Regions from separate parts of the Homo sapiens genome. Here all the other regions are linked to region 1. The links come from fine-mapping of genetic effects on gene expression. A gene starts in region 1. Each other region holds a variant in brackets. All regions are shown on one strand. Distances are from middle to middle.

Region 1 (8,000 bases):
TTAATCATTAGTAGTTTTTAAACTGTTGTACTTTAAGATCTGTTGTGGGCAAAAGGTAAGATAAGGTAATTGAATTTGTAGAAGATTTCTAAAGTAGTTATTATTTACCACAGCCATTACTTACCTAAATCTGTTTAATGTCTAGAGTAGAAAATTCTCTACAGAGAATAAAGAATAAAATTACAATTAGAATGAAACTGCCAGTAATAGTGTTAGAGTATAAAGAACACTTCATGTTTCATGAACCAAAGAACAACATTTGTAAAGAAAATGAACAATGTTAACTTCAGAAGAGTTCAATAGTTAAGCACCATAAAAGCATATATTACCAACAAATCACAGCTCTGCTAATGATAAAGCAGGCTCCTAAAGAGTTGAGTGATCAAACTACATTTTTTAAAAAACATTTAACAAATTAATTCTCATGGGCTGTTTCCGTAGTTAAATTGAGTTATATAATGTGTTTTCAGGTGGAACTCTCCAACTTGATAGGTTGGTTCTTCAAGTGGGAATTGAATGTCAGTCATAACAAATCAGTCTCCCTGTAATCAGCATAAGTGTCCTTTGGTTTCCTTTGATACAGAATAGATGTATTGATTTGAAATCGAATTATGAAATGATACTAAAGGAAAGAAAAATTATAATTTAGGAAAATACTGAATTTGTTTTTATTACATAATTGTTAAATTTCTGTTTTTCATTGGTATTTTCTAAGGCAAATTCCTCTTGAAGAAACTGAACTTCCAGGACAAGGAGAATCATTTCAAATAGAAGGTAATTCAAGTGAAAATCTAAAAATATTATTAAGGGCAAAATAAGGTCTTTGAGAACAAATAATACAATTAAATTTATCTAATTCTTTTTTTTTAACTTTTTAAATTTGTTCATCTGGTATTCTGCTCAAAGCAAATCTGTTTATTTTACACAGAGTAATAGAGTGTTAAAATATATTTATTGTGTCAAATCTGTAATCTGAATCTTTGGCTATAACTATGGCAGCAATTTACTGATTGCTACTACGTGTCAAGCTCTATGTTAGGCATTTTATGTGCATAATCTCACCTAACCCTCACAACAACCTAGGACTATAAGTACAGTTAGTCCTGTTTTATAGGAACTCAAGAAGGTAAAATATCTCACATGAAGAAGTCTAGATGTTAACAGCTAGCATTTAAAATCAAAGTTGAACTCCAAAGCCATCCCTTTCTTACTACTTTTAAATTGATATGTCCATGTTCTCAAGTGTCAATCTCCTCCACTTGAACCAAGCATTGAAGAAAGGATAGTATTTGAATAAGCAAAACCAGACGTCGAAGGAAGGATAGTATTTGAATAAGCAAAACCAGACATAGCCCCACTTTTCCTTAAAATACAAATTATATTTCTTACCTGAGAAGCTTTCTAGTTATTCAAATCTTATTTATTTTTCAAAGAACAACTTAGCTCCCACTTTCTCATTTGTCCCACTTTGGAATATGCGGTTCTACTTCTCTGAATCTGTACTCAATGATACATATAGACTATTCATTTTCTTTAAACCAAGAGCACATAAAAGCCTGTTATAATTTTTTTTTTTTTTGACAGTCTTGCTCTGTCGCCCAGGCTTGGAGAGCAGTGGTGCGATCTCAGCTCACTACAAGCTCTGCCTCCTGGGTTCACGCCATTCTCCTGCCTCAGTCTCCCGAGTAGTTGGGACTACAGGCACCCACCACCACGCCTGGCTAATTTTTTGTATTTTTTTTAGTAGAGACGGGGTTTCACTGTGTTAGCCAGGATGGTCTCGATCTCCTGACCTCGTGATCTGCCCGCCTCGGCCTCCCAAAGTGCTGGGATTACAAGCGTAAGCCACCGTGCCTGGCCTATAATGTTTTTAAAGATTATAAAGATTGAATGTCCCTTATCCAAAATGCTTGGGACCAGAAGTGTTTTGGATTTATTTTTTAAATTTTGGAGTATTTACATTATATCAGTTCATCATCCCTAATTTGAAAATCTGAAATCCAAAACCCTCCAGTTAGCATTTCCTTGGAGCATCATGACTGCACTAAAAAAGTTTTGGATTTCAGATTTTCAGATTAGGGATACTGAACCTGTACAAGATTCTTTCACATGTCAGATATAAGCCATCAGTTGATCACTGACAAGTAAATAGATGGTAATATTTAAGTTCCCAGGTTTTTATTTACAGATTTTATAATGTAGGAAAACTACAGAATGACCTTTTGGTCATTCACTTTTTTAGTTTGAATTCTAAAGTTCTTGAAATTCAAATTTCCACAAAGTAAAACTACTTTTCTCATTTATTTTTTAAATTCTCAGATCAGATACCTACTATTCCTCAAGACACACTGGGAGTTGATTTTGATTCAGGTGAAGCTAAGTCTACTGATAATGTCTTACCTAGAACTGTATCTGTTCGTAGCAGTTTAAAGAAACATTGTAACAGTATATGTCAGTTTGATAGCTTGGATGATTTTGAAACCAGTCATTTGGCAGGGAAGTCTTTTGAATTCGAAAGAGTTGGATTTTTAGACCCACTAGTAAACATGCACATACCTGAAAATGTACAACACAATGCTTGTCAATGGAGCAAGGACCAAGTTAACTTATCACCAAAGCTGATTCAGCCAGGAACGTTTACTAAAACAAAAGAAGACATTTTAGAATCTAAATCTGAACAAACTAAAAGTAAGCAAAGAGATACACAAGAAAGAAAAAGAGAAGAGAAAAGAAAAGCTAACAGGAGAAAATCAAAACGTATGTCAAAATATAAAGAGAATAAAAGCGAAAATAAAAAAACTGTTCCCCAAAAAAAAATGCACAAATCTGTCAGTTCCAATGATGCTTACAATTTTAATTTGGAAGAGGGTGTTCATCTTACTCCTTTCCGACAAAAAGTGAGCAATGACTCTAATAGAGAAGAAAACAACGAGTCTGAAGTGAGCCTCTGTGAATCAAGTGGTTCAGGAGATGATTCCGATGACCTCTATTTGCCCACTTGCAAGTACATTCAGAATCCCACGAGCAATTCAGATAGACCAGTCACCAGGCCTCTAGCTAAAAGAGCACTGAAATACACAGATGAAAAAGAGACGGAGGGTTCTAAGCCAACAAAAACTCCTACCAGTAAGTGATCTACTTGTTTACCTGTATTTTTAATGTTCGTGATAAATGATCACTCCTGATGCTTATATACTATACTTACCATCTGTTTCTCTGGTGGAGGTTGGAGACTTACCATCTGTCTCTCTTTGGTGGAAGTTATGGTCTGATTAAACAGTGGGGGGCTGGGTGTGGAAATCACAGTTGTATTGCTCTGACCTAATTCAGAGATTGCTTGTTATGGAGACAGAATTTTTATTTTCAGTAAATTAGGACTCCCAAGGGGACAGAGGGACTTTTTTGTAGACTTAGGTTGAATTGAAGTAGCTTTTATACACTTAACTGAAGTATCCCCTTGAAAGTGAAATCAAATTTGAATCCAGTGACTTGTTATTTTAATGGCCTTGTTTTATATTAAATTTGACAGGAACCGTGATTTAAAATAATCTTCTAGTTAGTGAAGATTTCCTCAATTGATAGGCTTAGTATTCTTTTGTACGACATCTCTAAAAACTGGCTCAGAAAATATTTTATTAGATCAAAAGTAGGCATAGTTCAAATGTTCGTAATACAACCTACACCTGTCCACAAAGATTCTCATTTGGCAATTTTAGTTAATACAAGTAAAACTAACATTTATAGTCAAGTTGTATCATTTTCAAAATATTGTCACATCATTTTATTTGATCCTCAGAACAATTCTGTGAAGTATAGGTGTTATGATGCTTATTTTGTTTGTAAGGAGATTAAAACCTTAAAAACCAAACCAACTTTCTAAATCGGCCAGTTAGTCAGTGGTAGCAGGCAAGTATCTTTTTTAAAAATATGCTGTAAGCCGGGCGGGTTGGCTCACGCCTGTAATCCCAGCACTTTGGGAGGCTGAGGTGGGCGGATCACCTGAGGTCAGGAGTCCAAGACCAGCCTGGCCAACATGGTGAAACCCCATCTCTACTAAAAATACAAAAAAATGAGCCAGGCCTGGTGGTATGTGCCGGTAATCCCAGCTACTCGGGAGGCTGAGGCAGGAGAAAAAGAATTGCTTGTACCCAGGAAACAGAGGTTGCAGTGAGCCGAGACCATGCCATTGCGCTCCAGCCTAGGCAACAAGAGCGAAACTCAGTCTCAAAAAAAAAAAAAGCAAAAATGCTATAATGATGTTAGAATAAATCAAACATGATTGTCAAAGTGTTGATAATTATTGGACCTGGGTAACTCAGAGTTTATTATACTGTTATTGCCATCTTTGTGTACATTTAAAAATGTCCAGAAAAAGTTGGGATTTTTTTGTTGTTGTTCACTTTTTAATTGAGACAGGGTCTTGCTCTATCACCTCGGCTGGAGGGCAGTGGCACTGTCATGGCTCACTGCAGTCTCAACCTCCCAGGCTCAAGTGATTCTTCCACCTCAGCCTCCCCAGTACTTGGGACTACAGGCATGCGCCATCACACCTGGCTAATTTTTTTTTTTTTTTTTTTTTTTTACTTTTTGTGAAGATGAGGTCTCACTGTGTTGCCAGGGTGGTCTCAAATTCCTGGGCTAAAGCAGTCCTCCTGCCTTGGCCTTACAAAGTGCTGGGATTACAGATGTGTGAGCCTGTATCCATAAAAATACATAAAATACATAAAAAATACGTTTTTAAACGAAAAAAATATACTCTAAAATGGTATTACTCAGAGTTTAATCCCTAGACGTCTTTTAAGAAATGCAGAATCTCAGGCCATACCCCATACCGTGGAGTCAGAATCTGCATCTTTTTTTTTTTTTTTTTTTTGAAACAGAGTTTCACTCTTGTTGCCCAGGCTACAGTGCAGTGGCACGATCTCAGCTCATCCCAACCTCCGCCTCCTGGGTTCAAGCGATTCTCCTGCCTCAGACTCCCGAGTAGCTGGGATTACAGGCATGTGCCACCACGCCCAGCTAATTTTGTATTTTTAGTAGAGACAGGCTTTCTCCATGTTAGTTAGGCTGGCCTCAAACTGCCAACCTCAGGTGATCCGCCCACCTCGGCCTCCCTAAGTGCTGGGATTACTGGCGTGAGCCACCGTGCCTGGCCATTAAGAAGTCCTCCTGTGGATTCATATACACATTAAAGTTTGAGAAGCATTTTTCCAGAATATAGCAACTGATCTGATATTGTTCCAAACAACATATTTCTCAAACTGAAAGTTGGAATAATTAATACAGTACAGTATATTTATGTGGGAACAAAAAGGACAGACTATAAAACCCAGATAACACTGGAGCATATGGCTCTTAGTATACAATCATTTCACAGTTATAGTTTTTACTTTTTTGGGGATACAGTTTGCTTTTTAAAGCTATTTGAGGAGATTGTTTTGCAGTGTCTTTACTATGTGTTGGACATTTGCCTCCCAATATAGGTGTAACTTCAAAGTATAATAACTTGGATGTTTATGATGGGAAAAACACTGAGTAACTTTTTTACATGCTAGCTTTTCTCCTGGTGTACACAGAGGCTGTTATTTAGAATTCTCATTTATTTAATAGAAGGAGTTTTAGCGGCTTTATAAGACTATAGGAAGAGACTTGATAATAAACCTTGGTATTGAAAGAGAGAGGACTTGATTCCAAATAGCAAGGTATGACTAAAATGAAATTCCATGGTTAAACAAAGTTATTATGCCCAAGCTATCCTAGAAGAATTTTAAGTTTTAGTAAAGTGTTCTGTTATAATTAATATTTCAACACTGTCTGGTTTGAAAGGAAGAGGAAAAAATGATGAAAAAGCTAAAAAAAGAATTTATTATTGGCTGGGCATGGTGGTGCATACCTGTAGTCCCAGCTACTTGGAAGACTGAAGTGGGAGGATTGCTTGAGACCAGGAGGCAGAGGTTGCAGTGAGCTGAGATCACACCACTGCACTTCAGCCTGGGCAACACAGTGAGAGCCCATCTAAAAAAAAATTCTATTATTAAATGCTGGATTTTGTGTACAGTTAAGATATATACAATTGAGTACAATTTAAGTTTTTGTGTGGGTTTTTTTTTTTAAATCATATTCAGTAAAAATTGTTTTGTAGCTACACCACCTGAAACTCAGCAGTCACCTCATCTTAGCCTGAAGGATATCACCAATGTCTCCTTGTATCCTGTTGTGAAAATCAGAAGACTTTCTCTTTCTCCAAAAAAGAATAAAGCAAGCCCAGCAGTGGCTCTGCCTAAACGTAGGTGCACAGCCAGCGTGAACTATAAGGAGCCCACCCTCGCTTCGTAAGTATTTGGTTTGTGGGAACTTATTTTTAATGATACATGTCGGGGGGAATAAGGTTATGGAGCTTTGTTCAAGAATGAGTTTTTTCTGAAATATAAACATTTGATTTAAAAAAACTGAAGTGAGAACATTTAAAATTGGTGTGTTTTACCATAACTTGGTAGGGAAGAGTAAGTTAATATTGGGATGCTTACATTATGCCTGAGATCTCTTTTTACTCTTACAGGAAACTGAGAAGAGGGGACCCTTTTACAGATTTGTGTTTTTTGAATTCTCCTATTTTCAAGCAGAAAAAGGATTTGAGACGTTCTAAAAAAAGTATGAAACAAATACAATGAAGGTTTTGTTGGATATTGTTTAAATTCAATCTACACCTCTTTCTGTTGCTTCAGGAGAGGATCTGTAAGAGTACACAAACAGAGTGAGCCATTGCCATAGAATATTCTCTTGACAGGACCCTAGCTCATAAACATTTCTTCAGAACTATACTTCAAATGGGATGCTTTGTATTAAAACTTTAATAAATTTAATTTATTTTTTCTTTTGAATATAAATAACTGAGCTTAAGCATTATCATCATATCGATTTCTTATGCTGCCTAAACCTCTTAATTTTAGTCGAAATATATCTTTTTTTTTTTTTGGAGGCGGAATTTCATTCTTGTTGCCCAGGCTGGAGTGCAATGGCACGATCTCAGCTTACCGCAACCTCCGCCTCCCAGGTTCAAGCGATTCTCCTGCCTCAGACTCCCGAGTAGCTGGGACTACAGGCATGTGCCACTACGCCCGGCTAATTTTGTATTTTTAGTAGAGACAGGGTTTCTCCATGTTGGTCAGGTTGCTCTCAAACTCCCAACCTCAGGTGATCTGCCCACCTCGGCCTCCCAAAGTGCTGGGATTACTGAGCCACTGTGCCCAGCCCAAAATGTATCTTATACAAACATTGTAGAAATGAATAATGATTACTCAAATAAGATCTTTTAATTATAAGCTTCTGGCATCTCTATTTTTCCCTTAAGTAGGGGATACTAAAGTGAATGATTTTCTAAGAGGATCTTTTGAAACTCTTTAGTACAATATTTGAGTAAAATAAATTATTGTGGATCTTTTGAAACTCTGTGTAGTATTCGAGTAAAATAAATATTTGACATTTACAGTAGGGTACACCCTAAGTTGTTTATGAATTCCTTATACCACTGTTATATTTAATTTTTCAGATAAAATATGTATGGGAAAATGACTAGAGAAATTGATTCTTTTTTAGGCTCAGGGACAAGATAAGTGACTAATTGTGAACCCCAAGCTCTAATTGTATGTTCAGAGTGATGTCTCCATAAAATTACAAATGTCATGTACTTTCAGGGTAGCTCCTTATTTAGTCAGAAATCTCAGAGATTAAATGTGTGAATATTTAGGGTTTTTGCATATTTTTGACCAACCAATGAAAGCGAATTAGTTCAGTTTAGAAAGTTTGATGTCTATACTTGTATATACCTCTTTAAATTTTAGAACTTTGTAGGTTATTCATTTTTAAAGAGCAATAAAGTTTGTATAAGATAGTGATTGCTTTCCTTCTATTCTTTAAATATCAAAAATAGAGTATCTCTCTGTCTTCACTATTCTCATCCTTGGACATTTCCTCTCCCCTCCCCTTGGTATTCTCTTTTT
Region 2 (11,236 bases), 110 kb after region 1:
TCTTGACCTTTATCAGCCCAGATAGGGTACCAGGGGAATCTACATAACAAACCTTGCTAAAACCAGCCCTGATCTACCATTGGTTTCCCCACATACTTGCCTTCCCACAATCTGCTGTCCCTAGCAGCTCAAGGTCCTTTTCCTTTGTCTTCTCACTTCTCTAAAAATTTACTAGTCTTTGCTGAGATAGCCTATAAGCCCAAGTTCTAACTACCTCCTTGAGTTACTCTTCACTGGGTGCTCTCATGTTCATACGCAATGAATATGTCAATAAACTTGTTTTTGTTTTTCTCTTGTTAATGTATTCTGTTAGTCTGACTGACAGGGCCCCAACCAATGCACCTAAAATGGTAAAGGGAAAACAGCTTTCTTCCCCTACAAAAGTATCACTAAGATTTTGTAGAGTCAGAGGAAACCACCCTTATTGTGGGCCAACCTCTCTTAGTTGCCGCATAGCTACTTCCAGGAACTCCCTAAGCCTCCAGCTTTTCTGAATAGTTGGTCTGATCCACAGCCCTTTCCCAAAGGACCTTAAGTTAGAGAAAGAAAAATGACTAAATGGCCCCAACAAAGCAATTAAATATGGCAGGCCAAACCTAGAAGGAAAAAACAGTAATAACCAAAAACACCTTGAGTTTGGAGAACAGCATTTCAAGCCAAGCAGTTATGCACACTGACTCATTCTTTCAACAATATTTATTGAGGCCTACTACATGCCAGGTACTATTGACTATGAAACAAAGATTCTGCTCTCCTGGAGATTACATTAGGGGTAGCCGGGGATGGGGAAAACAAGATTAACACAAATGAGTAAATTATAGAATATACTGGAGAATGTGATGGTGCTATGGAAAGAAAGAAAAAAGGATGAGTACAGGGAACTTAGCAGAGGGTGGGATAAAAGGTATAATTTTAACTAGGACTTTTTGAGATGACCTTAGAGCAAAGACTTGAAGAAAGGTGGGAGTTGGTCATTAGGTATCTAGTATAAGGGAAACACAGCTAGCGCAAAGGCAAGAGAGTGCCTGGCTTGCTCAACAGAAAGTAAAGGCCAATGTGGCTACAGCGCAGTGGGTAAAGACGTGTTGAAATTAAACCAGACAGGGTCAAGCACAGTGGCTCACACCTATAATTGCAGCACTTTGGGAGGCCGAGGCAGGCGGATCACCTGAGGTCAGGAGTTCGAGACCAACCTGGCCAACATGGTGAAATCCCATCTCTACTAAAAATACAAAAATTAGTCGGCATGGTGGTGCACACCTGTAATCCCAGCTACTCAGATGGCTGAGGCAGCAGAATCGCTTGAACCCGGGAGGCAGAGGTTGCAGTGAGCCAAGATTGCGCCACTGCAGTCCAGCCTGGGTGACAGAGTAAGACCTTGCCTCAAAAACAAAAAAAAAAGAAAGAAAGAAAAAAGAAATGAAATTAAGCCAGACGGGACAGGCACAGGTAATCCTAGAACTTTGGGAGGTTAAGGCAGGCAGATCACCTGAGGTCAGGAGTTCGAGACCAGCCTGGCCAACATGGCAAGACCCCATCTCTATTAAAAATACAAAAATTAGCCAGGTGTGGTGGTGGGCACCTGTAATCCCAGCTACTTGGGAGGCTGAGGCAGGAGAATCGCTTGAACCTGGGAGGCAGAGGTTGCAGTGAGCCAAGATCGCACCACTGCACTCCAGCCTGGGTGACAGAGTGAGACCCTGTCTCAGAAGTTTAAAAAAATATAAAAAAATAAATAAAGAAAGAATTCAAGGATCTAAAACTTTTCTTCCTATGGGCTTGCTTATAAAACTCTGCCTTGCCCTGAGATGCATGCTAACAAGTAACAAGCTTTAAATTCTTGGAGAAGACAACACAGAGTTTTAGAGATATAGATCTTAACTTCATTGTTGCAACAGACTAAGTTCAGTCAGCCCAGAAAAAAAGTTTATTTATGCCCCTTCTTGTCTTAACATGACAGAGAATAATGGCTGTGTTCACTGGGGGCTCATAAATGGGTGAGTCACAAATCTCATGGCAGGGAGATCTGTAATAATAAGGTCTTATATTTCCCCTACTCAATAAAAAAAAAAAGTTACATCTTGAATATTAACCGCACGTGTTGAAACCACTTGTGATAGAGTGCTTAATGAATTCTACCATACAATAAACACTGATGCTTAAAAATGTAACTGAATAAAGATCTTTTCTTTCAAAACTGGCTGATTTTACTTCCTCCACTGAGTCTTGGGATCCCAGTACAAAGTATATTTTTATTTCTTTTGTTCATAATGACTGAGACTTCCCAAACAAATTAAAATTCCCTGAAAACTAAGAGGAATGAAGAGAGGGAGACAACATGGGGTGAAACACTGAGAAGCATAAAAGTTTTGTCAGCCCCGCAGCACTCCAACTGTGCTGTCCAAGATGTGGCAGCCAGCCACAAGCGAATACGGAGTCTTTAAAAATTGGCAATAAAAATTGAGATGTGTTATGAGTGTTTGAAAATACACCCTGAATTTCAAAGACTTCGTATTAAAAAATGTTAAAATATCACATTAAGAATTATTTTATATTGATTACATATTATAATAATATTTTGAAATATTCAGTTAAAGTAAAAATTAGAATTAATAAAATTAAATTTTTGGCTTTTCTGATTTTTTTTTTTTAATGCGGTGCAGTGGGTTAAATAGTGTGTGCCCTAAAGTTCATGTCCCAGCCAGGTGCGGTGGCTCATGCCTGTAATCCCAGCACTTTGGGATGCCGAGGTGGGAGGATCACACATGAGGTCAGGAGTTCGAGACCAGCCTGGCCAACATGGTGAAACCCTGTCTCTAATAAAAACACAAAAATTAGCCAGGCATAGTGACACATGCCTGTAATCCCAGCTACTCGGGAAGCTGAGGCAGGAGAATTGCTTGAACCCAGGAGGCCAAAGTTGCAGTAAGCTGAGATGGCACCACTGCACTCCAGCTAGGTGACAGAGTGAGACTGTCTCAAATAATAATAATAAATAAAGTTCATGTTCCCCTGGAACCTCAAAATGGGGCCATATTTGGAAATAGGTTCATTGCAGATGTGATCAGTTAAGGACATGCAGATGAAATTATCCTAAGCCCTAAAACCAATGACTGGCGTTTTCCTAAGAGAAAGAAGAAGGAGATTTGGAGACAGACACAGACAAACAGTAAAGAAGGCCAAGTGAAGATAGAAGCAGAGGCTGGATCTCACTATGAGACAGACCAGGGTCTCACTATAAGCCAAAGAATGCCAAGGATTGCCAAGCACCACCAGATGCTAGGAAGAGGCAAGGAAAGATTCTTCCCTACAGCCTTCAAAAGGAGTGTGGCCCAGATGACATCTTGATCTCAGACTTCTAGCCTCCAAAACTGTGAATAAAAAAAAAACTGTATTTGTTGTTTTAAGCCACATATTTTGTGGTTATTTGTTATGACAGGCCTAAGAAACTAATACACAGGACTACTAGAAAATGTTAAATAATACATGCGGCCTCCATATTACTATTGGATATTGGTGCACTAGACTATAAAGGGACTCCACCCCCAAGCCCCAGGTCTTCACTATGGACCCTAACAGTTTAAGCATAGAATAGTCTCAGCATCCCTAAGTGGTCCTAACTCTTTAAAGTTATACCCTATTGATATATATGAGAATCCCTTGAGTTTTCCTTACTTGTTTCAGTATTTTTTGCAGGATATGAAAATTGGTTCTTGCATGTGTGCATGCTCCATGGGACACCTAACAACCTAAGTGTACAAAATTTTTAATATATATGGGACTCGTTACTTGATTTGCTAAAAAGGACATACTGTGTCCTTTAAAAAACAGTCAATGCTCTTATCCTTGACTGCCAGCAAAGCATTTTCTGCCAAGTTTTCTGAGCTGCTGCTACCATGCCCTCCACTTTGGCCTTCATCTCCCCATTCCAATGTTCAGGCCTGGCCACTGTTCTTCGAGATAAGAGGTCTCCTTTCAAAACACCTTTCCCATGTCTCTCCTTAATTAGGCATGACAGCTGCTGTCTAAGGGAACTCCCAAGGGAGTTGGCCTTGCAGCTTTAATGAAGTACCAGCTGAAGGACAACCTTTTAGGGAGTGCACTGCCAAGCCAATTACTGTAGCAGCTAGCAACCTGGGCACAGGGAGGGGAAAGCTACCCAGATGACTTCATCCCCCCAAGAGCACATCTCTGCAGACATTGCAGAACCAAGAAAGAAGAAAAGGCCACTGCACTACTTTCAACAGGACTGGGATAATGTTTTCATCCCAACAGGATCCAGGGTTAGAGGTCAATAGTATGCAACCGATGTTGTTATAGTATGCAGAAACCAGGATGGATGATGAGAAAGAAGATAAACTGGATAAACAAGTAGTCACAACCCAGATTACAGACAGACAAGGGGTGGAGAGCTCACAGTTCACGCAGTGTTAATGAGTGAGATGGGTGTGAAGATATTTGAGTGGCATCCAGAGGAACAGGAGAAAGACAGCCAGCTGTCTAGCAAAATTCTGTCATGCTTAAAATATTGGAAAGTCGCATTTGTTGGAAAACTTAAATTAGTGTCAAGGATGTCCCACAGCAAGAACACGTTGATGGAAAATTTATTCAGTATAACTGATCCAACATTTATTTAGCACCCAAAATTAAAAATGTACATGTACTCTTATCTCACTCGATGTAAGTAAAGTATGAATTATTGCCATTATTAAAAGAGAAAGCTGAGGCTCTAGGTGATAAGAGACTTGCCTGGGGTTACTCATTCTACCCTGCAGATGCACAAAATGTGTCCAGGCAGGTAACTGGCACTGTGGTTGTGAGAGAGGAAGGACTCACTCTTATTCACTACCTCTCTGCTCCATGCTGGACAAAGTCATAATGTTTAAATGTCAAGGATCAAAACCGTAACTTCTCACCCAATAAGATCTCTCTAACCAAATATAGATAGGAGGAGTAAATTCTGGTGTTCTATCGCACAGCAGAGTGACTATAGTTAACAATAATATATTGCATATTACAAAATAGCTACAAGAGAGGATTTTGAATGTTCTCATCACAAAGAAATGACAAGTGATTGAGGTGATGAACATGCTAATTACACTGATTTGGCCATTACACAATGTATACATGTTTCAAAACACCACACTATGCCCCCATCAATATGTATAATTATTAGGTGTCAATTAAACACAAAATAAGTTCTTTTTTCAAAAGGAGCTGACAATAACAAATTATCAGGCATGTGAAAAATTGGAATCCTCATACAGTGTTTGTGGGATGTAACAAGGTACAACCACCTTGGAAAACAGTTTGCTAGCTTCTTATATACTAATGGAACAGAATAGATAGCCCAGAAATAAACCCTCACAGATAATGGTCAAATGATTTTGACAAGTGTGCCAAGACCATTCAATAGAGAAAGGACAGTCTTTTCAATAAATGGTGCTGGAAAAACTAGGTATCTG[T/C]GTGCACAAGAATGAAGCTGGACCCTTAGCTAATAACACACACACAAATGAACTCAAAATAGATGAAAGACTTCAACATAAAATTGTGAATCTCGGCCGGGCGTGGTGGCTCACGTCTGTAATCCCAGCACTTGGGGAGGCCGAAGCAGTTGGATCACGAGGTCAGGAGTTCAAGACCAGCCTGGCCAACATGGTGAAACCCTGTCACTACTAAAAATACAAAAATTAACCGGGCATGGTGGCTCACGTCTGTAATCCCAGCTACTTGGGAGGCTGAGGCAGGAGAATTGCTTGAACCTGGGAGGCAGAGGTTGCAGTGAGCTGAGATTGTGCCACTACATTCCAGCCTGGGCAACAGAGCAACCATCTCAAAAAAAAAAAAAAAAAAAAAAAAAAAAAAGAGGCCTACTCAGAAGTTGCTGTGAGGTGAGATCGCACCACTGCACTCCAGCCTGAGCAACAGGGCGAGACCCCATCTCAAAAGAAAAAAAAAGAAAGAAAGAAAGAATCTCTTAAAAGAAAATACAGAAAAAATCTTCATGATACTAGATCAGGCAATGGTGTCTTGGATATAATACCAAAAGCACAGGCGGCCAGGTGTGGTGGCTCAGGTGTATAATCCCAGCACGCTGGGAAGGTCAGGAGTTCAAGACCAGCCTGAGCAACAAACAAGACTCCATCTCTACAAAAATTTTAAAAATTAGCTGGACATAGTGGTGCACGCCTGCAGTCACAGCCACTCAGAAGGCTGAGGCAGGCAGATCCCTTGAGCCTAGGAATTCGAGGCAGCAATGGGCCATGACTGTGCCACTGTACTCCAGCCTGGGAAACAGAGCAAGATACTGTCTAAAAATAAATAACAAAAACACAGGCAACAAAAGAAAAACAGATAAACTGGAATTAGGAAAAACTTTAAATTTCTGTGCACCAAAAGACATACACAACAGAGTGAAAAGGCAACCCAGAGAATGGGAGAAAATATTTGCAAACCATATATTTGATAACAGGTTAATATCCAAAATATATAAAGAATGCCTACAACTCAACAACAACAACAACAACGAAATTTTACAATGGGCAAAGGACTTGAGCAGACACTTCTCCAAAGAAAATATACAAATGGTCAATAAACACATGAAAAGATGCTCAACATCATTAATAATTATGAAAATGGGCCAGGCACGGTGACTCACGCCTGTAATCCCAATACTTTGAGAGGCTGAGGCAGGTGGATCACCTGAGCTCAGGAATGCAAGACCAGTCTGGCAAACAAGGCGAAACCCCGTCTCTACTAAAAACACAAAAATTGGCTGGGCGTGGCGGCGCATGCCTGTAATCCCAGCTACTCGGGAAGCTGAGGCAAGAGAATCGCTTGAACCCAGGAGGCAGACGTTACAATGAGCCGAGATCATGCCACTGCACTCCAGCCTGGGTGACAGAGCAAAACTACCTCTAATATATATATATATAAAATAAAATATATATAATTTCTATATATTATATATTATATATAATAATATATAATATATAATATATAATTTATTATGTTATATATAATATATTATAAATTATATATAAAATATATTATATATTATATTTTATACATAATAAATATTTTATATATATTATATTTTATATATTATATATTATATTTTATATATTATATATTATATATCATATTTTATATATTATATATTTTATATATATTTTTATATATAATATATTTTATATAAAATATATATATTTTATATATTATATATTATATATATTATATATTATATATTTTTATATATTATATATTTTATATATATATGTTTTATATAATATATATTATATGTTTTATATATAATATATATTATATGTTTTATATATAATATATATTATATGTTTTATATATAATATATATTATGTTTTATATATAATATATATTATATGTTTTATATATTATATGTTTTATATATAATATATATTATGTTTTATATATAATATATATTATGTTTTATATATGATATATAATACATATTTTATATATAATATATAATACATATTTTATACAAATATATTATATATTTTATGTATATTATATATATTTTATGTATATTATATATTATATACTTTATGTATAATATATAATATATAATATATTTTATGTATTATAAATTATATATTTTTATGTATAATATATTTTTTCATATATATTATTTTTTCATATATACGTATGAAAATACAAATTAAAACTACAATGAAATACCACCTCACTCCCATTAGCATGGCTACTACAAAAGAAACAGAAAACAGTGTTGGAGAGGATGTAGAGAAACTGGAAACCTTGAATATTCCTGCTGAAGACGTAAAATGGTATGGCTGCTATGGAAAACAGTATGACAGTTCCTCAAAATATTAGAAATGGAATTACTATATGACGCAGCAATTCCACTTCTGGGTATATACCCAAAAGAATTGAAAGTAGGAAGTCAAAGAAATATTTGGACACCCATGTCCTAGTATCATTATTAAGCACAACAGCAAGAAGGTCCAAGCAACCCCAGCATCCCTTAAGAGATGAATAAATAAGTAAAACGTAGTATATACATTCAAAGGGCTATTATATAACCTTAAAAAGAAAGGCAACTCTGACACATGCCACAACCTGAATGAAACTTGAGAATGTTATGCTAAGTAAAATAGTCACAAAATGACAAATACTGTATGATTCCACTTAGATAAGGTGTCTATGGTAGCCAAATTCATAGAGATAGGAATGGTGGTTGCCGAGGGGTTGGAGGAAGGAAGAGGGAGTTACTGTTTAATGAACACAGAGTTTCAGTTTTGCAAGCTGAAAAGTGTTCTGTGGATGAATGGTGGTGATGATTGCACAATAATGTGAATTTCTTAATACCAATGAACTAGACACTTAAAAATAGTTCAGATGGTAAACTTTAGATCATCTATATTTTACCACAGTTTTGTTGTTGTTGTTGTTGTTGTTGTTTTGAGACAGGGTCTCACTCTGTTGCCCAGGAGTGCAGTGGCATGATCATGGTTTATTACAACCTCAACCTCCTGGGTTCAAGCAATCCTCCAACTTCAGCCTCCTGAGTAGACAGGACCACAGGCATGTACCTCTACACCTGGATAATTTATTTTATTTTATTTTTTATTTTTATTTTTTGGTAGAGACAGGGTCTTACTATGTTACTCACGCTGGTCTCAAACTCCTGGACTCAAGGGATCTTCCCACCTCAGCCTCCCAAAGTACTAAGATTACAGGCCATGAGCTACCATGCCCAGCATTACCACAGTTTGTTGTTTGTGTGTTTGTTTGTTTGTTTTTAGACAGAGTTTCTCTCTTGTTGCCCAGGCTGGAGTGCAATGGCGTGATCTCAGCTCACTGCAACCTCCGCCTCCTGGGTTTAAGAGATTCTCCTGCCTCAGCCTCCCCAGTAGCTGGGATTACAGGCATGCACCACCATGCCCAGCTAATTTTGTATTTTTAGTAGAGACAGGGTTTCTCCCTGTTGGTCAGGTTGGTCTCAGACTCCCGACCTCAGGTGATCCGCCCGCCTTGGCCTCCCAAAGTACTGGGACTACAGGCGTGAGCCACCATGCCCAGCCCACAGTTTTTTAAGAAACAACAATTTTTTCAAAAAGTTAAACATAAATTTACCACATGACCCAGCAAATCCACTAAGTATCTACCCAAGAGAAACAGAAATATATCCATACTAAGACTTGCATGCAGATGCCTCAGCAACATTATTCATGATAGCCAAAAGGCAGAAATAATCTAAATGCCCATCAACTAGTTAACGCATAAGCAAAATGTGTTCTAGTCATATAACGGATTATTACTTGCAATGAAAGATAAAGAAGTGCTGACATATGCTACAACATGGATGTATCTCAAACACATTACACTCGGCATAAGAAGCCCATCATAAAAGGCCACATACTGTATACTTCCATTTACATGACCATCCAGAAAAGGCAAATTTATAGAGACAGAAAGATTAGTGGTCATCTGGGGTGGGGGGTAGGAACAGGGTTAACTGTAAATGGACCCAAGGATCCTTTGGAGGTGATGGAAATCTTCTAAAAGGTAGATTGTGGTGATGATTGTACAACTTGTCAATTTCTTAAAAATCATTGAATTGTACACTTAAAACTAGAGAATATTATGGTACCTAAATCATAACTCAGTAAAGTTTTTTTTGTTTTTGTTTTTGTTTTGAGATGGAGTCTCGCTCAGTCGCCCAGGCTGGAATGCAGTGGTACGATCTCGGCTCACCGCAAGCTCCACCTCCCAGGTTCACGCCATTCTCCTGCCTCAGCCTCCCAAGTAGCTGGGACTACAGGCGCCCGCCACCACACCTGGCTAATTTTTTGTATTTGTAGTAGAGGTGGGGTTTCACCGTGGTCTCGATCTCCTGACCTCGTGATCCACCTGCCTCGGCCTCCCAAAGTGCTGGGATTACAAGCGTGAGGCACCACGCCTGGCCTTTTTTTTTTTTTTTTTTTTTTTGAGACAGAGTCTCTGTCGCCCAGGCTGGAGTACAGTGGCATGATGATCTCAGCTCACTGCAACCTCCGCCTCCCAGGTTCAAGCGATTCTCCTGCCTCAGCCTCCCGAGTAGCTGGGACTACTAGACGCATGCCACCACGCCTGGCTAATTTTTGTATTTTTAGTAGAGACGGGGTTTCACCATGTTGGCCAGGCTGGTCTCGAACTCCCGACCTCAAGTGATCTGCCCACCTCAGCCTCCCAAAGTGCTGGGATTACAGGTGTGAGCCACATGCCCAGCAAGATATTTTAATAATATTTTTAAAAAACAACACCTGGAGTCCACTGTAAGCAGCTGGGATTGCCAGAAGTTTTCTCTTTGGAAATGAGCAGTTTGAATTATGCTGATGTAATTAGGAGTAGTGCTTCTCAAACTCCAATCTACTCAGGAATCACCTGGAGATCTCATCAAAATGAAGATTAAGATTCAGTGGGTGTCGGGTGGAACCTGAGATTCTACATTTCTAAAAGTTCCTGGGTGAAGACCACTCTTTGAGTAGCCAAGATTTGAAGAGATAAAGATGGTTTGACTTCAGCAACACCTTTCTCTTCTCCCTGAATTAACTTTAGCTTTTCATATACAGATTAAATGGTTCAGTAATCCTTCCCTGGGACACAAGCCCTTTTTCTTCCTCCACTGTGTGACAATCCTTCCAGTTCACACAGTTGTACATGGAAGGCCAGCAGAAGATACCATAATGCTATGACTTCAAGCTGGGATTTTTAAACTATGGGAACTTTAAAAATCTGACACAAGTGAAAAGAGGAAAGTATACAGGGTGGGGATCAGGGTTCCCTCAGGAGAACAAAACTGCCTGGGATTGAGATAGAAATAGAATTGTAAGAGAGAAAAGATAACTAGTGAGGTAATTCACTATCAGAAGCATCTCTGAAAACCTTTTTTTTTTTTTTTTTTTTTTGAGACAGAGTCTCGCTCGTTGCCCAGGCTACGGTGCAGTGGCGCAATCTCGGCTCACTGCAATGTCCGCCTCCCAGGTTCAAGCAATTCTCCTGCCTCAGCCTCCCGAGTAGCTGAGATTATTGCCCACCAACACACCCAGCTAATTTTTGTATTTTTAATAGAGACGGGGTTTCACCATGTTGGCCAGGCTGGTCTTGAACTCCTGACCTCAGGTGATCTGCCTGCCGTGGCCTCCCAAAGTGCTGAGATTACAGGCGTGAGCCACCGCACCTGGCTGAATACCTTAAT
Region 3 (11,236 bases), 33 kb after region 1:
AACACAAACCACGGCATTACTAAAAAATTTCGCTTTTAAAAGAAGGTCTATACGTACTAATTCCAGGAATGCTTTCTATAGGAATCTGTCGAACTCCATCTTTAAAACATGAAAGTCCAGGGTAAACTTTTCGAATTTGTGCCTGTTTTCTTTCAATCAGTTTTTTAATTATCTGTAAAGCACAGGAAGGAAATGTGTTTAGGGAAAGAAGTCTATGGATACAGTTCAAGTCAGTCAACCTAATGAAATGTTTTCCTAACAAAACAGTCTTTTTTATGAAATAAGATGGGAGAAAGGGGTGAATGCTATTTAACAAGTAAGAAATGAACAGATTATATTATACCATGTCTATTTAGTGACATTCACAAAAACATCTTTGAGTTACTTGTCCCTGACATCCAGAAAAGCCAATATTGAGAAAACACACAGCCCCTAGGGCCCACTTGTCATCTGTAGCATAAGAGCCAATTATTTTGCCCTGCTTCTCTGAGGAGGCTCTGCCAGAATTACAGGAAAGCAGCCCTGAGCATTCACTACTCAGTCAAGTGACAGAACCTCTTCACTTCCCATAACTAGGAACTGTTCCCTTCGGACTAGAGAAGCAGGTAAACGGGCCCCAGAAAGTCCCAAAAGCCTACAGTTGTTAAAGCTTTACTATTTAAATTTTTCAAGGCTGGACCTCCAACCTATTCTGGCTGCATCAAAAAAGCAGCTCTATAATAGTAGGCTGTCATGAGAAGAAAGAAAAGAATAATGCAATTTAAAGTATCATCTATTAAAGCAACACAACCATGACATAAGCCATCACACTGACTGAGAAATTTTGAGAGATGTTTTGTTTGTTTTGTAAAATAATTATTAATATGCTGAGGTAACTACTTCCAAGACAGTGAGGTTATCCCTTTAATAAAAAAAAAAAAAAAAAAAAAAAAACTAAAAAAATCCCATCCGGAAATTAAACATATCATAACGAAATTTTGGAAAAACGAAACAAAACAATAGAAATCACTAATTGCATTCACAAAGGAAAACAAAAAAATCTACTTCCTGATTGATTTCAAACATATAGCTGGTAAATACTGCAGCATGAATATGTAATCCTAACAGTTAAACAAATAACTTCATAAAATGAATGGGACTAGTAAAAGTATATTCCTAGTAAATCTAGATCAGTGCTGTCCAATAGAGACATAATACAAGCCACGCATGTAATTTAAATTTTTCTACTAGCCGCATTTTTAAAAGGCAAAAAGAAACAGGTGAAATTGATTTTAATAATGTATTTCATTTAACCCATTATATCTAAAATGTCATTGTAACATACAATTGGAAAAAAGTGTAAGATATTTTACATTGCTTTATTCATATGAACTCTTGAAAATCAGAGGATTGGCCAGGTGCAGTGGCTCACACCTGTAATCCCAGCACTTTGGGAGGCCGAGGTGGGTGGATCACTTGAGGTGAGGAGCTCGAGACCAGCCTGGCCAACACGGTGAAACCCCATTTCTACTAAAAATACAAAAAATGGGCTGGGCATGGTAGTGCACGCCTGTAATCCCAGTTACACAGGAGGCTGGGACAGGAGAATTGCTTGAACCTGGGAGGTGGAGGTTGCAGTGAACCAAGGTTGTGCCATTGCACTCCAGTCTGGGTGACAGAGCGAGACTTCCTCTTAAAAAAAAAAAAAGAAAAAGAAAGAAATGAAAATCAGAGGATTTTATACTTACAGCATGCCTTAATTTTGACTAACCACATATCAAGTCCTCAGTAGCCACATGTGGCTAGTGACTGCTACTTTTGACAAGGCTGATCTAGATGGGTGCTTTCCATTTATTTATTTTAAGTCCATTTATTTATTATAAGTCCAAATCTTAAAAAAAAAAAAGAAAAAAGAAACCTGGCTGGGCTTGGTGGCTCACGCCTGTAATCCCAGCACTTTGGGAGGCCGAGGTGGGCAGATCACGAGGTCAGGAGATCGAGACCATCCTGGCTAACACAGTGAAACCCCTTCTCTACTAAAAATTACAAAAAATTAGCTGGGCATGGTGGCGGGTGCCTGTAGTCCCAGCTACTCGGGAGGCTGAGGAAGGAGAATGGTGCGAACCCAGGAGGCAGAGCTTGCAGTGAGCCAAGATCATGCCACTGCACTCCAGCCTGGGTGACAGAGTGAGACGCTGTCTCAAAAAAAAAAAAAAAAAAAAAAAAAAAAAAGAATCCCAAGGGCAATCTCTTAAATCGACACCTTCAGAGAATATGCTGAAGACTGTTTCAATTTGAAAGTTTCCTTCTCTTCACCAAGGGACTCTCAAATGCAATGACCTACAGATGGCTTCCACTCACCTCATGTAGCACCTTAAAGATTGTGGGCTCCTGAGAAGTGACTGTTAATGGGAATGGGAGGCGTCCTAAGCTCTCTGTACCTCTAGTAATCAGTATGGAGAAGAGATCTTTTTTAATTTATTGTTTTCATTTTAGATACAGGGGGTATTATGGGTATACTGTGTGATGCTGAGGTTTGGGCTTCTAATGATCTCACTGCCCAAGTAGTGAGCACAGTACCTGACAGGTAGTTTTTCAACCCTTACTCCTCTCCCTCTCTTGCCTCTTTTGGAAACTCCAGTGTCTACTGTTCCCATCTTTGTGAGCATATATCCCCAATGTTCAGCTCCCACTTATAACAGAAAACATGCAGTATTTTGTTTTCTGTTCCTGTGTTAATCTGCTTAGGATAATGGCCCCAGCTAAACCCACACTGTTGCAAAGGACATGATTTTGTTCTTTTTTATGGCTGCATAATATTCCATGGTGTATATGTACTACATTTTCTTTATCCAATCTACCTTTGATGGGCACCTGAATTGATTTCATGTCTTTGTTATTGTGAATAGCGCTGCAATGAACATAAAAGCACATGTATCTTTTTGTAAGAACAATTTATTTTCCTTCGGGTATATGCTCAGTAATAGGATTTCTGTGTGGAATGGTAATTCTATTTTTAATTCTTTGAGAAATCTCCAAACGGCTTTCCACAGGGGCTGAACTAATTTGCATTCCCACCAAGAGTGTATAAGCATTCCCTTTTCTCCACAGCTTTGCCAACATCTGTTATTTTTTTAACTTCTTAATAATAGCCATTCTGACTGGTGTGAGATAGTATCACATTGTGGTTTTGACTTGCATCTCAGAAAGGAGATATTTTCATTGTGTTCTAGTGTATTAACTTCACCTCCCTAGAAAATATCTTCAACTCCCTACCATGACGATAAAATCAATGCCTTCCAAATGAAAGTATGTCCTCATCTTCTTCTCCTGAAGTCCACAGCTCAGTCCTATGATCTACTGCTGTCAGTTTTAGGGTCTCCCAAAGCAGAAAATTTCAGTGGAGTAGTTCCCCATCTCCAATACATCACCCAGTCTTTGCATGTCTCCTTATAAAAAAATTGCATTGAGTCTCCCCATCCTTACTTTGGCTTCTCCAACCCCAATTCCTTGTATTGTCACATGTAGATTAAGATTTAAGAACTTATCCCCCCACCCACCACCCAGCCTATCCACACATACATGTACATAGGTATATGTACGTACACACACACACACACACAGGCACATAGATACCCAATTATGCTTGCTCATAGCCTATTCGCGCTTTCTCAAATAGTGCCTTCATCACCGACATAACAATGGTCCTACCTGTTCATGTGCCCACAAATCTGTTTCCATTGGACTCTGAGCCTCTGCTAATGCAGATTTCATCACCAGGCTGCCCAGTTCAAAACAAATGTCCCACAAAGCCCTGTCAGGTGACATGAGGCCCCTACAGATCCTACCTTTCCCTTGGAGTCAACACTCACAAAGTAGCACTTAACTCTCCACTCTTGGTCCACCTGTCCAACTATACTAGTTTTCTCTCTCTCTCTCTACTAATGACAACTACAACTTATTCTGCTCCTGTATACTTTTAGGGGCTAGGAAATGCCTCAGAATATTCACTGTTTCTTTGCTGCCACCATGAATCCCTACCTTCCTTGAGGGGTTTTTCACAGTTGGAACAAATAATACTTATAAAAAATCAACTGAATTCTGTGGAAAAAAATACTACATGAATCCAAATATATTTTTATTGAAGTGACTTCAGATAGCTTTTTTAAAAACTAGGTTAAGATCTCCAAACCTCCATCACCCATTCAACGGAATGTGTGAGGGAAGGCTGGAGGCAGAGGGGGAGGAGAGGAGAAAAAAGAATGGGGAGGGAGCCTTGGCTTCTAAAAAGTTGACTGCTTTGTTAGCCATCTAAAATAGCTCTGCGCTTCTGGCGTTCCCCTGTAGGTTTGAAGGGCCAACAGATCATGTACAATGTGAATTTGCAGACTCTGCCAAGGGAATCCTGCTCTCAGCTAACACCGTGGGGATGAATTAGTGCTGCTGGGAGGAGGAATGAGGAAAGAGCAGCTGACAGCGGGGTGATGGCTTTAGTTGGCCAGCAGCCTCTAATGCGGAACGATGTGCTGCTGAATCCAGACCTGCTCATTAAGCTCCAGAGAGAACAATGAGGAAAGCCAGCTCTTCAGAGAGACAGGGAGAGAGAGGAGCCCGCTGTGCTTTATTAACTCTTCCAAGTGCCTACTTGGAATTCTCTCTTAGGCTGACATCTTTGAACAAAAAGCAACAAAAGTTGTTTGTATTTTCCAAAAAAAAAAAAAAGCCTTTGCTCACTTCCCCAGGAAACACAAGAACAAGACTGAGCCACTTTAAGTAAAAGAAAAATACTTAATGAGTAACTACTATGCACCAGACACTGTGTAAAAAGCTTTAGGGCTGTTAGGTAGATAATGCCTAACAAAAAACTAAGAACTGGGATTAAGGAGGTTAGTAGAAACCAGAAAACAAAGATGGGTATAAGACAGATGTCCTCCTAAGCTATTTGTTAGAGAAAAGTGCACTAAACGAATAACAGAAGTATCAAGTGGAATTGACGTGGGATGACACAGCTGCAAACTCCACCCAACTGGGAGCAGCCAGGAGGTGATCCTGGACTTAACACACAAAGTTCTTTCTTTCAATAAATGGCCTTTGTGTACTCCCCAGTTCTGTTCTTTTCATCATGAGTGTTTTTTTTTTCTGCCTTAGAAAATTTGAAATTATTATGTATTCAACTCTGTCAACCTTTCCCTTTTACTGCTTCTCTTTTCATTCATATGCATAAAAAAAGTCACCTCAATACCAGATAACAAATCACTTAATACCTAGAAGGATAAGCCTTCAGAACTTGCCAAGTAAAAGCAGAGATTAATATACAGTAAGGTAAATGTCTATGTAAGATGAATAACTGAAATTCAAATAGGTGGATCAAACTGGTGCTAGAGAAGTTCAGAAGAGGAACTGGAACACACCCTGAAACGGTTTGATTTATGTGTGTGCTGAGTGAA[C/T]GGGGTGGCTAATGGACAAAGACACTTTGGAGAATAGTAAATAGATGCACTTGGAGTATTTGGAGATGAAAGTAAAGAGATAAGAGTGGGAACAATAATTGAGGCCAGAATGCAAAATGGCTTGAAGGTGAAGTTAAAATATGTCACCATATTTTACATATTTTGTATTTTACATATTTTGTATTTTACACAAATTTAAAAAGTAATGACTCTTGTAGAAATGGTAACCGAGAAAGGAAACAGATCAAGGATACCTTTAAAGAAATCTATGGCCAGGAGCGATGGCTCACACCTGTAATCCCAACAATTTGGGAGGCCGAGGCAGGTGGATCACTTGAGGTCAGGAGTTCGAGACCAGCCTGGCCAACATGGTGAAACGCTGTCTCCACTAAAAATAAGAAAAATTGGCTGGGCATGGTAGCACACACCTGTAATCTTAGCTACTCGGGAGGCTGAGGTACGAGGATTGCTTGGGCCCAGGAGGCAGAGGTTACAGTGAGATAGTGCCACTGCACTCCAGTCTAGGTGACAGAGAGACTCTGTGTCAAAAAAGAGAGAGAGAAGAAATCTAGATAACCCACAGCAAACCGAGAGTTTGCTATCCAGTAAACACATACACGCAGCACCCAAGGAAATGCAACCCACCCCAGCTAAGACTGGCCTGTACAGAAGGTAAGGGAGTCAACCACCTGCTTACCTCCTTCTGCTTTTTAATGATGACAGAAAATTCTGTGTACGGGATCCGTGGATTTAGCTCACATCCCATTAAAGTGGCTCCTTCATAATCCTTGATATAGCCAACATATTTGGTTTTAGGTATTTTAATTTCTTTGGAGAAACCCTGAAAAGCAAGTAAATTCATTCATATGAACACCATACACCAAATATCTACTGAGTGCTAACTATGTTCCAGGCACTGTGTGAGGAATCAAGACAAGCTTCTTTGAAGTTCTCATTGTACTATTCTGAAGAGGATTAGCTTAAAACCACCCATGAAGTTCAAAAACACCAGAAATCTAACTGTGTAAATAGGAAGCAAGACAACATTTTTTAAATGGCCCTAATAAAATGCAAGAAATATTAAAAAGTTTAAAACAGAAACAGGTGTTAAGTAAAAATTAGGTTTAATTTTGTACTGAATTACATAATTAAATATGACCGTTGCAAATTTCTCCAAAAGTGGTGAGGGGGTCCCCAGGATTCTCAGCAAATCAATAACTAACATTGATCTAAATTATCAAAGAAAAGATGGTCAAAAAAATAAAGTGATTAGAAACTTAATGTTTCTGAGGAAATGAAATCCTTTCTTTGCAGGCAAAAAAATTCCAGACAGTCACAATGTGTGGTTGTTTCAATGACATTAATGCTTTGGAATATACTCATTTACACACTTTAAGCCATAATAACAGACTGCTTCAGAGTATATATTCAAAATTATAAATAATATATTTATAATATAAACATAATTTGCCTTAAGTATCTATTTCAGTTATTTGCAGAAAATTTCTTGAACTTCAGCACCATCGCCAGCAGTTCACTGCCTCATCTTTCAACAAAAACTTATTTTCCAAGTAATTATTGCCATCATCCTCAAAGAGGACTACAGACAAGTCATTTAAGAACCATAGCTGAGATCTTATGCTTTGCACTACAGTTACAGCTGAGGAAAGCTGATGCTCAAGACCTCAGTGAAACAATCCAATTAAGTTCTCAGTGAGTTTTACCATAAAAGTTAAAATGCATCTCAAACAATGAGAAGATAATAAATAGGAGATTATTTATCTGTCTTCAGAGCACAAAAAGCTTTCTAATTACATAAGAACACATTTTTAAAAAAAAAGAAGTCTGGCTGGGTGCAGTGGCTCATGCCTATAATCTCAGCACTTTGGGAGACTGAGGCAGGAGGATCACTTGAGTCCAAGAGTTCAAGACCAGCCCAGGCAACATAGCAAGATTCTCTCCCAACCCCTCACCATCTCTACAAATGATTAAAAAAAAAAAATTGCTGGGCATGGTGGCATGCACCTGAGGTCACAATTACACAGGTAGCTGAGGCAGGAGGATCGCCTGAGCCCAGGAGGTTGAGGCTGCAGTGAGCTATGATCATGCCACAGCACTCCAGCCTTGGTGACAGTGTAAGACCCTGTCTCAAAACAAACAAACAAACAAAATCCAAACCAAAACAAGTCAATAGATTTTATGTAATAACATCTTTAACATTCTGAAGATTTAAAGAAAAAGCCATAAGCAATGTTGAAACAAATATTATCCAAGGTTAATATAGTTATATACTAATAGTTCTCACAAATCAATGTACAACTAAACATTTTTATAGAAAAAGGGACAAAAGAAAATGAATTAGCAATCCAAAAAAGGAACAAATACAAAGAATTGATAAACATGGAAAAATAAATCAAACTTCACATAAATAAATTCAAACATACACAATTTATTATCTGGAAAAGTGGTAAATTTTTTTTCAGTTACCAACTCCTTTCCTGACCCCCTTATACACTGCTGACAAAAATGGAAATTTTTAAAATATTTAGCAACACATTACAAAAACCTTGATTTATTCTAAGCAAATTACCATCAATGAGGGCAAAACATGTACACAAACACACACCCATACACATGCACATTACCTACAAGAAACACCTAGTCAAAAATGTATTGGTTAAATATTTTCTATTTCTACAACAAAATCCTAGGAAACCACCAAAATTATTATATACACAGTATGAACCAACTTTTATGTTTATATACACACAGAAAAAATACTAAAAAGATTTATGTCAAAGCATTAACAGCATAGGTATGAGCTGAGAGGAAAAATAACAGAAAAAATTTTAAAATAAAAAAATCAAAGCATTAACAGTAAATTTCTTGGGGTGACAGAATTACAAGCCATTTTTCTTTCCTTCTTTTGCTTTATTACATTTTCTACAATGATTACACATTACTTTTATAGTCAGAAAAGTAAATGAAAATGTTTAGGAATTATAAATCACTATTAAAAATAATATGCAGTCAAAGAATAGTCCTCAAAAAGCTGAGCTGAAAACTTATTTTAAGACTTATTTAAAGAGAGACAAGTTCTCACTATGTTGCCCAGGCTGTTTCAAACTCCTGAGCACAGCAATCCTCCTGCCCTGGCCTCCCAAAGTACTAGGATTACAGGCATAAGCCACTGCACCTGGCCTGAGCTGAAAACTTCTGATAAGAAACTGCTAGGACAGAGGCCTGGTGAGGTGGCTCACGCCTATAATCCCAGCACTTAGGGAGGCCGAGGTGGGTGGATTGCTTGAGTCCAGGAGCTCGAGACCAGCCTGGGTAACACGACAAAACCCTGTCTCTACTAAAAATACAAAAAATTAGCTGGGTGTAGTCACAGCTACTTGGGAGGCTGAGGTGGGAGAATCACCTGAGCCCAGGAGGTCAAGGCTGCAGTGAACTGAGATTGCACCACTGCAGTCTCAGCCTAGGCACCAAAGTGAGACCCTGTCTCAAAAAAAAAAAAGGAAGGGAGGAACGGAGAAAGGAAGGAACTGCAAAGATGACAGCCAAGCTCCTAGCCCACTATGTGCTGTAGAATCAGGACTGTTTGCAGGTTTTTATAAACTCCAGGATTTCCTTTCTGCTGTCATAAATGGAGGCCTTCCAGAAACTGAATCTGTTTTTCTCATTCACAGAGAATGCTACCCACCAAATTCCAGGACTGGGAATTTCTTATTAGAAACCATATTTTAGAATGTTAGGATGCAATATTATACCTCACTGACAGGTGACATTCATTCATTCTCTCAACAAATAGTTATTCAATACTTACTATGTGCTAGTGACACTCTCTAATCCAGGCTGAAGCTTATTTTTGACATAAGGCTTGTAAAACAAATGCCTGTTCTTATAAGTAGAAAACACTGGGGGAGAAACTTATTTGGAAGAACGCTACCTGAGAACATATTAAGAAAAGGAGTGACAAAACAGTGTTGCGTGGTGAGAAACCAACCTGTTTCTTAAAGTATCCAATTGCATATTCATCTGCATATGTGAGGAAGTTCAGGATGTCATGCTTTATGTGATATTCTTTCAAATGATTCATCAGGTGTGTTCCATAGCCCTGTGTGGAAGTTAGTATACAAACAAATACATTAGACTGGGGAGAAAAATTTTTACAAATCCATCAGGAAATGATGGTGAATTCAGAAGTTTGTACTTTTACATATTTTACCAACCAGGACCTTTCCTGAATGAAATATATTAACACCCTTTCTTGCGTTTCTTAACTTTGAAAATAAGCTATAAAACCAAAACAAAATCAAAATCCTTGCTTCAAAGATAAAAATCATCATTTGAAAATGTAAGTTTCTAGTTATTTGAAAATAACACACCAGGGCCACAAGTTCCTAGCTCAATCTTAAAGATCACTTGCTGAATAGTAATATAAAAGTTTTCAGAATGAATGTAGATTATGAATTTCTGCTTATCTTTAAGGTATTTGAGAATCTCAGAAGAAAAAAAAAAGATGCAAATGAAAAGTGCTAATCTTCACTAGAATATTTAGTAATCCAAGTGTTTACTGTACACCACAAACTGGCAACCCTTCTAAAGAACTGAATCATCACATACATAGCATTTTAAATTTGGTCTTATCAGACCTTTCCAAGTAAGGTCTGAGAAGCCCAGAATCTCTGAATCAGCCAGAAGACATTAGAAAGTAACTAAAGGTAGTCAACAATGTTGAATAAACTCAGTCATTGAAATATTTTTATAATATCAAGTTTTTTCAGTGACAAAGCTTACAGAAAACGTGTAAATCTAATGTGATTGTTTTGGAACCTCATAAAGAGAGATAAAAGTAAATCCAAGTGTCCAGACCCAAATATCTTCACATAAATTTTCTGCAATTTGGTGGCACATTTTTCTAAAGAACTCAAATATATTCCCAGGTATGATCTCATGGAATCACAGTACCTCAAGGTCAGAAGGATCTTTGGAAGTCATTCTATCTAACCCCCTAATCCATATGAGGCTAGAGGTCTTTTGCCATCTATCATGAAAAGGCAATCTGCTAGAACACCGCCAACGTAGGCCAATTCCTTGGTGGTGAGATAGACCAATTCATTTTCAGGCATCATATAGTTGGGAATTCCTTCCTAACGTTCACCCAAGATCTGGTCATTGTTATTTCTACTTATTGACCTTAGTTCTACTCCTAGAGTTACAAAGACTCATTCCTGCTTTTAACAGCCCTTCAAGCCTTTGAAGATTATGCTCTCTCACACATGCCCATCCGTACTTTCCCAGTCCCAAGCCAAGCACCATCAAGGCTATAGTCATTCCTCATATGGCATGACTGAATGACACCTTATCAAACTAATCACTTTGGTTTTTATTTTTTTTTTTTTGAGATGGAGTCTTGCTCTGTCACCCAGGCTGGAGTGCAGTGGCACGATCTCGGGTCACTGCAAGCTCTGCCTCCCAGGTTAATACCATTCTCCTGCCTCAGCCTCCCGAATAACTGGGACTACAGGTGCCCGCCACCACACCTGGCTAATTTTTTGTATTTTTAGTAGAGACGGGGTTTCACTGTGTTAGCCAGGATAGTCTCGATCTCCTGACCTTGTGATCTGCCCGTCTCGGCCTCCCAAAGTGCTGGGATTACAGGCGTGAGCCACCGCGCCCGGCCACTAATCACTTTTTTCGGAGTTTTTTCTAATATAACAATGCCTTTCTAAAGCATGGATCCTAGGACCAAGCATAATAATAAGGGGACGGTATGTCTAGTAAACAGAACAGTATCATCATCT

Evidence for each region. PIP is the estimated chance that this variant, and not a neighbour inherited with it, causes the effect.
Region 2: its variant is fine-mapped to the expression of SGO1-AS1 in whole blood (INTERVAL, PIP 0.98).
Region 3: its variant is fine-mapped to the expression of SGO1-AS1 in whole blood (TOPMed, PIP above 0.99).

What each region holds. Positions count from the first base shown.
Region 1 is chr3:20,169,375-20,177,374 of GRCh38, reverse strand. It overlaps SGO1-AS1 (SGO1 antisense RNA 1), which reads right to left and starts at 3,089. Exons shown (of 4, transcript NR_132785.1): 1 at 2,850-3,089; 2 at 2,557-2,640; 3 at 125-158. It overlaps SGO1 (shugoshin 1), which reads left to right. Exons shown (of 8, transcript NM_001199251.3): 5 at 716-774; 6 at 2,320-3,126; 7 at 6,143-6,332; 8 at 6,560-7,891. The coding sequence ends at 6,671.
Region 2 is chr3:20,058,164-20,069,399 of GRCh38, reverse strand. The region is part of intron 1 of KAT2B (lysine acetyltransferase 2B); the gene reads right to left. Among named protein-coding and RNA genes, the nearest start is that of KAT2B, 23 kb to the right of the region's middle. RefSeq lists an enhancer at 10,318-10,487. The variant T/C (reference allele first, on the strand shown) is at 5,466.
Region 3 is chr3:20,135,252-20,146,487 of GRCh38, reverse strand. KAT2B (lysine acetyltransferase 2B) reads right to left here. Exons shown (of 18, transcript NM_003884.5): 12 at 9,436-9,546; 13 at 6,124-6,267; 14 at 58-172. It overlaps MIR3135A (microRNA 3135a), which reads right to left and starts at 8,923; the gene lies at 8,847-8,923. RefSeq lists a silencer at 5,145-5,345. The variant C/T (reference allele first, on the strand shown) is at 5,427.